2 separate regions of the Homo sapiens genome follow, and region 1 is linked to region 2. Evidence: fine-mapped expression QTL. A gene starts in region 2. The other region holds a variant in brackets. All regions are shown on one strand. Distances are from middle to middle. Region 1 overlaps MKLN1 (muskelin 1). Region 2 holds the start of MKLN1 (muskelin 1).

Evidence for each region. PIP is the estimated chance that this variant, and not a neighbour inherited with it, causes the effect.
Region 1: its variant is the best candidate, but not a certain one, in a credible set for the expression of MKLN1 in whole blood (INTERVAL, PIP 0.84).

The regions. Positions count from the first base shown.
Region 1 is chr7:131,479,023-131,484,404 of GRCh38, forward strand. The region is part of intron 17 of MKLN1 (muskelin 1); the gene reads left to right. Among named protein-coding and RNA genes, the nearest start is that of PODXL, 75 kb to the right of the region's middle. The variant C/T (reference allele first, on the strand shown) is at 2,038.
Region 2 is chr7:131,324,925-131,330,306 of GRCh38, forward strand. It overlaps MKLN1 (muskelin 1), which reads left to right and starts at 2,952. Exons shown (of 18, transcript NM_013255.5): 1 at 2,952-3,073. The coding sequence starts at 2,976. It overlaps MKLN1-AS (MKLN1 antisense RNA), which reads right to left and starts at 2,855. Exons shown (of 6, transcript NR_125364.1): 1 at 2,691-2,855; 2 at 1,882-2,011. RefSeq lists enhancers at 2,717-3,293, 2,988-3,287, 3,294-3,870 and a silencer at 2,778-2,937.

The DNA.
Region 1 (5,382 bases), 150 kb after region 2:
TTTCCTCTCAGTTCGTTCTTTGTGGAATTGTGTGTCGTCAAGAGAATAGCGATGGGGTAGGCAATGTTTTGGGAGCACAGAAGATAGATTATCTCTTTCCTGAAAATGGGAGTTTTGTTATCTTAATTGTTCAAGATAACTTCTGGTTGAAACTCAAGTTTTTCTCAAACACTTTAGTCTTAATTTAGTAATACTCTCTTTTAGTATTAATGAATTATTAACTAGACTGTAGGCCGGGCACAGTGGCTCACACCTATAATCGTAGCACTTTGGGATGCTGATGTTTGAGCCCACCAGGAGTTTGAGCCAAGCCTGGGCAACATAGTAAGACCTCGTCTCTACAAAAAAAAATTTTTAATTAGCCAGGTGTAGTGGTGTGCGCCCATAGTCCTAGCTACCTAGGAGGTTGAAGTGGGAGGATCACTTGAGCCCAGGAGGTAGAGGCTGCAGTCAGCCAAGATCATGCCACTGCACTCCAGCCTGGGTGACAGAGAGAAAGACTGTCTTTAAAAATAAAAAATAGGCCGGGCGTGGTGGCTCATGCCTGTAATCCCAGCACTTTGGGAGGCTGAGGCAGGAGGATCACGAGGTCAGGAGATCGAGACCATCCTGGCTAACACAGTGAAACCCCATCTCTACTAAAAATACCAAAAAATTAGCAGGGTGTGGTGGCGGGCGCCTGTAGTCCCAGCTACTCAGGAGGCTGAGGCAGGAGAATGGCGGTAACCCAGGAGGCAGAGCTCGCAGTGAGCCGAGATTGCGCCACTGCACTCCAGCCTGGGCGACAGAGTGAGACTCCGTCTCAAAAAATAATAATAATAATAAATTTAAATAAATAAATAAATAAATAAATCAGCCGGGCACGGTGGCTCACGCCTGTAATCCCAACTACTCGGGAGGCTGAGGCAGAATTGCTTGAACCCAGGAGGGGGAGGTTGCAGTGAGCCAAGATCGTGCCATTGCACTCCAGCCTGGGCGACAGAGGAAGACTCCATCTCAAAAAAAAAAAAAAAAAAAAATACCAAGACTGTAATAAAGTGGGTGGTCTCTAGAACCCAGACCTTTACTTGGGTGAATTTTCAAGGGCATTTTCATCAGGATAACTTATGATAGCTTCATTTTTTACCAAGATAATCGTCTTGAAGTATGGAAATTCCCAGCTTTCCTCTGGTCAGTGAATGCATATTAATCCCATTGATGCTGGTGCAGTTATTATTTGCCTTAGAGTTGAGCAATAGTATTGAAATTTTCCATTGTATGTAATATAAATACTATTTTTTATGTTTGGAATAAAATAACACTTTGGGATATCAATTTAGTTTCTTCATTATTTGACCTTTTATCTCTTGAAAGTGAACTGTACCTCAAAGAAAAAAGAGTATATATAATTCTGGTGCTTTTCACTGGGATGAAAAAATAGAGGTGTTCTTGAGGTCTTGCCCTTTATCCATAGCGAGTGATTGAGGCTTCTCGACTGATCAAGGCAACTCCAGTCCTAAGTTCTAACTCCAGAATATGTAGGATTCCTCAGGACTAGACTGAGCAGACTGCTATAAACGTGACTCCAGAAGGTTCTCCTAAGAATTTAGATAATGATTTACCACTATTCATACACTCGAGTTGAAGACCTTAGGCTACTAGAAATCCCCAGTCTGTGAGCTGGAGAACCTAGGTGTAAACATTATTTTGGAAAGTTCATGCCCTTCTGAATTCTAGCATTTGAAACAGATGTACTGATACATGAATTGGGGGTCTGGCATATATTCTGTTTAAATGATTATGTGCCTTATGTCTGATACCACAGCCCAGGCCCATTATTTTATTTATTAGTGCATAGCACTAAACTATCTCTAACTGACTTATTTTTAGCCTTTAGAACAAGAATTTCTTGGCAGCAATTTAAATATATCAATTAGGGTGGTGTCAGCAAATATTTTACCTTCAGCTTAACTCCTTTCTTTTGACTCTGACCTATTCACTGCCAACTAATATATTTTGTCAGGAATAGTTTGTTTTATTTGGATTCTAAACAAACCT[C/T]AGATATACTGAGAACAATACAAACACAAAAAGAGAAAAATACAAGCAGGGGAAATTCCTGTGGGATGTTGTTTCCTGTCTTGTCTGAGGGGAGGTATTATATAGCCTAGTGATTAGGAGGTTGGAATGTGAGATGGTGGTTGAGAGTCAGGATCTCTTTTAAAAGTGATCTTGAGCAAGTTATTTAAACTTTCTAATTATCAGTTTCTTTATCTGTAAAATGGAGGTAATGGGAATACTTACCTCAAATTGCTGAGAGAATTAAATGAAATAATTCTGCAAGATAGTTATCACAGTAAAGCAGTAAATGCTCCATTCAGGGTACCATTACTATTGACTGCCTTAAAAATTTAATCTTCTAGCCAGGTGCGATAACTCATGCTTGTAATCTCAACACTTTTGGAGGCCGAGGTGAGATGATCATCTTGAGCCCGAGAGTTCAAGATTAACCAGAGTAACATAGCAGGATCTTGTCTCTATTTTTTTAAAAAAGTCACCTTTGTAACACTGGTGAATTTGGATAAGGAGCAAATTCAGATTGTATGCTAATTTTAATAATGAGAAATTTGATTTAGTATTTATAAACAAGAAGTACTTTTCATAAGGTTTCATGCCTATTTAGAGTTCCTGGTTCTTGTTCTTATTAATTTTCTGTCAGACTGTTCTATCTTTGTGCCAATTAGAATAGAAATAAAATGGGTTATTTACTGTACCTTTCATTGTATAAATGAATATTTCATTTTCTAAGGTCTGCAAAAAAAAAAAAAAAAAAACCTCAGCCGAACTTTCTGAATGACTTCCTCCAGAAATAATCCAATTTATGTTCATCCCTTAGTGAGAATTAAATAAAAGTATTAATATTGTATGTAAAATTTTAAAGAATCAGAAAGATGGAAGGTGACATTATCTTAGTTTTGGAAAAATGAGTGATCTCGGAGAAAATCTCCAAGGATCTTGATTTTAGAGCTTCTGGTGGCTATAGGCACTTTTAAGGTTGAACTCAGTCACTTTGCTAAGTTTAAGAGCTATATCTTATTTCTAGAAAGTATGAATTGGAGCAATTAAACTTATTTTCAGCAGGGTATGTGACAAGTAGGAAAAATCTGGTCTGTAAAGCATGTTGCCTATTTATTTATTTATTCATTCATTCATTCAGACAGGATCTTGCTCTGATACTTAGGCTGGAGTGCAGTGGTGCAGTCATGGCTCACTGCAGCCTGGACTTCCTGGGCTCAAGCAATCCTTCTGCCTCAGCCTCCCGAGTAGCTGGGACTGCTGGCATGCACAACCATGCTGAGCTAATTTTTTTTTCCTTTTTTACATTTTTTGTAGAGATGAGATCTCACTGTATTGCCCAGGTTTGTCCTTTTTTGGTCCTCACAACTCTTTTTAGAAGTTTACAGTCCAAATATAAAGTTTAGTGTTAGAAATAAGAAGTGTACATTTAATAATGTGTATGCTAGGAAAAAAATGAGAATTCATGTTATTTCTCCTTTACCACAAGTAGGAAAATCCAGCTACGTGTAGGATGTTAAGTTAAAAGTATATTCCTAGCCAGGCATGGTGGTGTGAGATGGAAGAATCTCTTGAGCCCAGGAGTTTGAATCCAGCCTGGGCAATGTAGCAAGACTCCATCTCTAAAAACAAAAAATTACTCCTAATAGGTCACTTTCTTTTTAGAGCAGTCATTGTCATCAGTCATACTACTAGTGATATGCTGATAGCTAATTAATATTTATTGAGCACTTACTGTGGGGCCAAGTGCTCTTCTAAGCACTTTGCATGTCTTAACGCATGATTATCCCCACAGTAGCCCTATGAAGTAGCTACTGTATGATCCCCTTTTGTATATGAAGAAACTAGGTTACAGAGAGGCTAAACTAACTTGCCCAGGCATAGTGCTAGTGAATGGCAAACCAGGATTAAAACCCTGTCAGTATGGCTTCAGAGCGCCTTTTCTAAACCACTAAATATGCTACCTCTCACTGAGCTTTACCAGTTTCCACTGCTCAAATGGTTACTTCCTCTTTCCATTTTACTTTATTTATGAAAATAAAGTAAGATAAACATAGTGATTAGGAGCATGAGGTTTAGAATCAATATCATCACCTTTTTGTCCTAGCAGTGCCATTTAAGTAGTTGTGGTACTGTTGATGAGTTTCCTAGATCCCCACCCCTTTTTAATTTATTTTTAGAAAAAAACATTGATTACATATAAAGCTTAGAATTCTCCTTAAACAACTTTCCTCAATCTCTGTATTTTACCCTCAAGTATAATCACTTATACGTAATACATCTTTACACACACACAACCATATACACAGACATAGATGCAGTTGGTTCTCATTATTCAAAGAGTACAGAGTTAGGTTCCTACAAGCCTCTGGTCACAACATTTTATCTACTGATTAATATATAACCACGTATTATGTGTGTTTCTGTTTAAAGATTCCTCATTTAATATATATTGTTGATTCACTAACATTAAGTTCATGGTCAACATCACTCTAACTCATACCTGAACCAAGCTTATCTAATGTGCATATTTTTCCCCATAAGGCCTTTTTGCACTTAGGAATGCCAGACAGCACTTTGGCACTACATTTGGGGGCCATTTTAAACAGTGAAGCCACCAAAAACACAAAAATGTGGCACCAAACAGATGGTGAAAGGGCTGTTGTGGATAGTAAGAGCTGAAACTAGAAAGCAGCAGAGATCACAGAGTTCAGCTTCAGCTGGGGACGTGTGCATATGGTAACTCAAATATTTTGCCACTTTGCACATGTCTGCAATGACCACAGAAATACCACAAGTATTGGTTTGGGGGTTACACATGAATTTTAGCAAACAGGCAAATTCACAAATATGGAATCTGTAAATGATCAAGATCAACTGTATATACGCATGCATACACTCATATAAATATATAGGTTTGTATGGGCTGTTTTAATTTATTATATAATGTAAAAACATATTCTGCAGCATAGTTTTTTTAAGTTAATGATGTGGCTTGTAGACGTTTTTATGAAGCTACACTAGATCAGTTGTATTCTTATGAAGTGATACATAATTATTCATAATAGGGATCTACCATAATTTAACCATTCGTCTAATGATAGTGTAAGTTTCAATTTCCTCATAGGTAAATAGTAAATAAAAATAAAAGATGTGCCTTTGAGAGTTAAATGAGCTTAGTACATTGCCCTACAACTTAAGCACTTAATGAGTGTGAGTTAATAAAAATTAAAGGGCTTTGGAGTCAGACAGACATGGGTTCCACATTCCATCTCTTCCCTCCCTAGCTGTGAGACTTCACTGAATTACTGAATCTCTTTCTGTGTAAAA
Region 2 (5,382 bases):
AATTATTTTACCATTTATAAAATTTGTGATGCAGGAAAGCCATGCTATCCTGGGTCTTTACCTTCTGAGTAGCAATTATACCTCAGGGATACACGTTTGTAGTCTGAGAAGTGCTGGCATTTTTTTTTTCCTTTGCAACTCAGAAGTCTCTAATTAAAGTTCTCTTTTAGCATTATTCATTCACTCTTTGATAAATATTTACTGAACATCTTTATTTGCTAGACACATCAACAGGACTGAGGATACAACTGTGAACAAGATATGTATGACTCTTATCTTCATGGGAGCTATCATTTAGAGAGAAAGAAAGGGGAAAAAAGAGAAAATTAAAATATATTGTGATGTGTGCTAAGATAAAGAGGGAAACTTAGAGTGCTAAGAGAAATGTAAAAAATGTTACCTATCCTGTGTTAGCTTGCATAGGAAAAAAAAAATGAAGAAAACTGTCACCTAATCCCAGAGCAGGTGTTGAAGAAAGATTTTCGGCCAGACGCAGTGGCTCATACCTGTAATCCCAGCACTTTGGGAGGCCAGGCCGAGGCAGGAGGATCGCTTGAGCCCAGGAGTTCAAGACCAGCCTGGGCAACAGAGTGAAACCCTGTGTCTACAAAAAAATTTAAAAAGTAGCTTGGTGTGGTGATGTCTGCCTGTGGTCCCACCTACATGGGAGGCTGAGGCAGCATGATCCTTTAAACCCAGGAGGTCAAGGCTGCAGTGAGTCATGTTCATGTGACTGCACTCCATCCTGGGTGACAGAGTCAGAGTGAGATTCTGTCTCAAAAAAAAAAAACCAAAAAAATTTCCAGGACCAAACAGTCTACAGGATGAGCTGGAGTTAGCCAGGTAAAGAATGGGAAAGAATATTCCATGCCTGGCTTAGAGCAAGCTCCGGAGGCTAGAGAGAACAAGGACTCTATGGGAACAAATTCAGTGTGCTAGTTAGTGGGCAGATGTCAAAAGCGCAAAGGAGAAAAGTGGGGGGGGGGTGGTGGTGAGGAAGCTGGAGAGAAAAATCAAGGCAGGTTATGAAGGGCCTCTGTTAAACAGTTTAGAAGGGTATTGAAAGTCACCAAAAGGATTTAAGCTTAAGAAGAACTAATTAACATGTGTTTTTAAAAAAGATTGCTCAGGAACTATGTCTGGAAAAGAACAAGGACTTGACTTACATTAAGGTAAGAAGTGGAATTATAAAATCTGGGGCCCAAAGGAATTGGAGTGAGTTAATTCCTCCCCTTTAAAGTGTCTATTTTCTTCAAAGATAACCACTATATCATCTCTGGGGCTAACATTCTCTGGCCCTTTCCCACTGTCTCTGGCAGCTCCCGACCCAAGTCACTACAGTTACAGCATTCCCTTAAGGAACACATGCTTTTCCAACCTGCTGCAACACAGAAAGCACATGTAATTTTTTATTTTATTGTATTTTATTTGTTTTTCTGAGACAGAATTTCACTCTGTTGCCCAGGCTGGAGTGCAGTGGTGTGATCTTGGCTCACTGCAACCTCTGCCTCCTGGGTTCAAGTGATTCTTGTGCCTCGGCCTCCCAAGTAGCTGAGATTATAGGTGTATGTCACCACACGCAGCTAACTTTTGTATTTTTAGTAGAGACGGGGTTTCACCATGTTGGCCACGCTGGTTTCGAACTCCTGACCTCAGGTGATCCACCCACCTCAGCCTCCCAACGTGCTGGGATTACAGGTGTGAGCCACCGTGCCGGGCCTGGCCTTTCTATCTGGCTTTTTTGATTTGATATCCTAGTAGAGCCCACTATTAAAATTTCCATCTATAGAAACAGGAAGTCAGGAAAGGACTGGAGGGAATTTCGGCAGGTTAATGATTACAACGGGAAGAGAATACAATTATTGAGGTGTTTTGACTCACTTGGTCATTTCCTGAGAAACTCTTTGCTTGAATTTTTCCACTCTTCAGGTGAAGATGATGACACTGTCCAGGCTTTCAGGAGTCCAACCTCTTAGACAATAAGCGACATACTCTTTGGTAACTGCAGTGGCTAAGCCAAGGAATAAATATGCATAACTACAACAAACAGGTACTTGATGAGAACGTTATCTAGAGCTGCCAGATAATTTAGACCAAGTGCACCTTTTGTTGTAAGAAGCTGGTATGATGTCCACATAGTTTTCAGGGCTGCTGTTCCCTCTAAGAAGAAGGAATAGTCTTTTTCCTGAACTACTCTCTCTCTGAACTTTTAGGCTACAATTATGTCAGTTCAAAGTGGGCAGATTTGCCAACTGAAAAAATGATGACACGCAGCTTCCCAACTCTGTAAGGACTTTTCAGGTCTGTGGGTGAACGTCATTCCCGAGCAAACCAATGCCACAAGATTAGTAGGATGCGGCTCACAAGAAATGTTTACAATGAAGGGCATCACAGACTGCAAACCAAACAGGGTAGGAGGACACGGGACCATTTCCTTTTCCTGTCTCCATCTGACTCTGGAAGGCGGGGACAAGACATTTAAAACCAGGACCACTCCAGGAGGACAGCACATTAGCTACTGCCCTCCAGCTCCCTTCAGTGTTGTTTCCGTAAAGGACTTATAAACTGGCGAGGGCGGTGGCTTCCAAAAGCGCACAGGCGTCCCTTTTCCAACTTGGTCTTCTTATTTTCCCTTCCTGCTCCATAACTACAACGTGTTTCTGTTCGTAATCATCTCGGCTTTTCCTTACCTCTGCTTGTAAGAAAAGTCCTTTGCGCCATTCCCCTCCAAGCCCCAGGGAAGGGCCTGGAAAGCGCTTACACCTCAGACCCAGTGTCGGTCAGCCGTCAAGGAGCGAGCGACGTGGGAAACCCTGAGATAGGACATTGGCCCGGCGCTGGGCTCGGGTAACGATGCGGGGCGGGGAGCGCGGGCGGCCGGGGAGGGCGGCGGCCCCTTTAAGAGCAGGCCACGCCCCCTCCCCTCCTCCCGTTCGCTGCCAGCGGTCGGTGGCGGCCGCTACGGTGCTGACAAGATGGCGGCTGGCGGAGCTGTCGCTGCGGCGCCCGAGTGCCGGCTTCTCCCCTACGCGCTACACAAGTGGAGCTCCTTTTCCTCCACCTACCTTCCCGAGTAAGTGCCGGGCCTTGAGCTCGTGCTGCCCCACCCTTCCGCGTCAGCACGGTTGGGCCAGGGGTGCAATGGAGGGCAGCCGAGCCGAGAGGCCCAGGCGGGGCCTGCTGAGGGGGACGTGCGGCCTCCGGAGTCTTAGTTCAGCTGCTGAGAGCGTTGCTCGGCCTCGCTCGGGAAGGGGTTAGGGTCCGGAGAGCGAGCCCAGGGAGAAGGGGCGAGGTGTGTGGCGGATCCGGGGCGCGCACAGGAGAACCGGAAGCCCAGCGGTTCTGCGCTTGGGATTTGGGGGTTGAGGTTGAGGAGGGCTTGGGGGGCGGACGGCTCTGGGGCAGGAATCGGAGTTGGCGGGGCCCTGCCCGCGGGCAAACTACCCCGAATGTCTGAGGTCGTCCGAGGTGGTCGGCGTCGGGGGACAGTTCAGTCGATTGCTGCCGGGACAAAGTGTAAAGCCGAGGAGTGTCTATTCCAGAGTGGGGTCATTAAAAGTGATTAGCTCTAGAGTAGTGTTAAAAGTCACGGAAGGCTGAAAAGTTGTGGAATCCATCTGAATCCTAGCAGGCGGGGAGAACTTGTAGGATTGGCAGACGTTGTCTTTAATGCCTGGAAGTTCTGAAAAAGATAGGGAGTGGGAAGGAGGGACGTTACCGAAGAATTTCAGTATTACGGCTCATTAGAAGATGGGTTTGTATGGACACAGACACGTTTCCCAGTCCGGAAACTCAAACATAGAAACATCTGGCTTTAATGAATTTGATTTTCAACACCGGCTTTGTCTTGATCCCTGATTTAGGTGTTAAAAAAATTCAGTTGCATTGTTAGGTTTTTGTTGGTGGTGTTTTTTTCTCTAGCAAATTCCTTCTGAAATGCTGAAAATACTCTTACATAGTATCTTATTTATCTTTGGCTTATCTTTGAAAGGAGGAGCAGATCTAACTCCAATTTTACATGCTAGTGGAGGAACTGGCTTAGTAAAGGGTTAAGATCTGTGCAGATCCTGAAGAAAAGTGCTAGTTGTCCCTCTAACCATCTCACAGGACCGAAACGATTTTATGAACGAAACAAATTAATGAATAATATATTTTACTGAGTATTTTACTAAACAAAAAAGTGACTAGATCTGTGAAGCATACTCAAGTAAGTTTTCCATCTGTATTTGAGAAATTCTTCACATTTATCCAAATTTGATTTCACTGGTTATATCAATGAAGAATCTCAAAATGGAGCTGCAACTGGAAGAATCTGTCATGACTGCCAGCCTCCCATTTTATTCACCAGGTCAAGGGTTGGCATTCAGTAGGATCTGGCCCAATGAAGGGTGCCAAGTGACCTGTGGTTTGATCTGGCCTGCGTAGCCTATTCATGGCCATATCCCTGATTGATGCTGAAACCCAACTTTGAATTTGAGAGTGAGCCAGATAAACAGTCCAGCCATGTAGTTGGAGTTGAAATGTGGCCCTATGTACTTGACCTCTGATATTCTGGGCTATCTTGTTCTTGGATCTGAAGTTATTCAGCTTTTTTCTATACCCAGGCTAGGATTATGGACAGTTGGGAATTGGTGTGGCATTGTTTGATCTAACTGTAGAGACATTTTTCTGGTCTTGAATTAGCGTATTTCCAGGACGTCACTCCTTAAATTTTTGATGTAGGCCTGAGGCTTGGATAACACAAGTACCATCCGCGTTATCTGTTGTATAGACATTTTAAGAAAGTACATTTCAAGCAGGAAATGATTTAGTGGGATGGCAACTTTAATCTTTTGTGTCTTGTTACTCTGGCCCCTGGTTTGCAGTGGGCAGAACACTAGTTTTGGAGTTAGAAAGCAACAATTTGAGATTGGAGAAATACATTGCTGCAATTTTCTCAAGTACATACATAAAATAGTATTTAATACATACGTAACTTTCATACACTTCCACTTACTATATCTTGTTTAATCCTTATGACATTCTATTGACAAATGCAGTATAATTTGTATTTAAAGTAAAGTATTAGAAGAGTAATCTAAGCTTTTTTCTTTGAAGGAGTATAGTTGAGTATTATGGAGCTGGAGTTGGAGAATATTGTGTCTGCTGGGTTGGTGTGTGCCATGCCTAAATTATAAAACTCTTGGCTCTGAACTTCTATAAGCAAGCAAGGATATTACTTCTCTGTGTGACAGAAGATGTAGGAAAGGGGTTGACTTTACTTACCTTTGCCCTAAAATCCCCTCTAGCAGCAATTGTTGTATCTTTACTGGCAGTGGAAACCATATTAAGGTACTTCTTAAACAGGTCTCATTTTAGGTTAAAGACATTTGTTGAAATTGT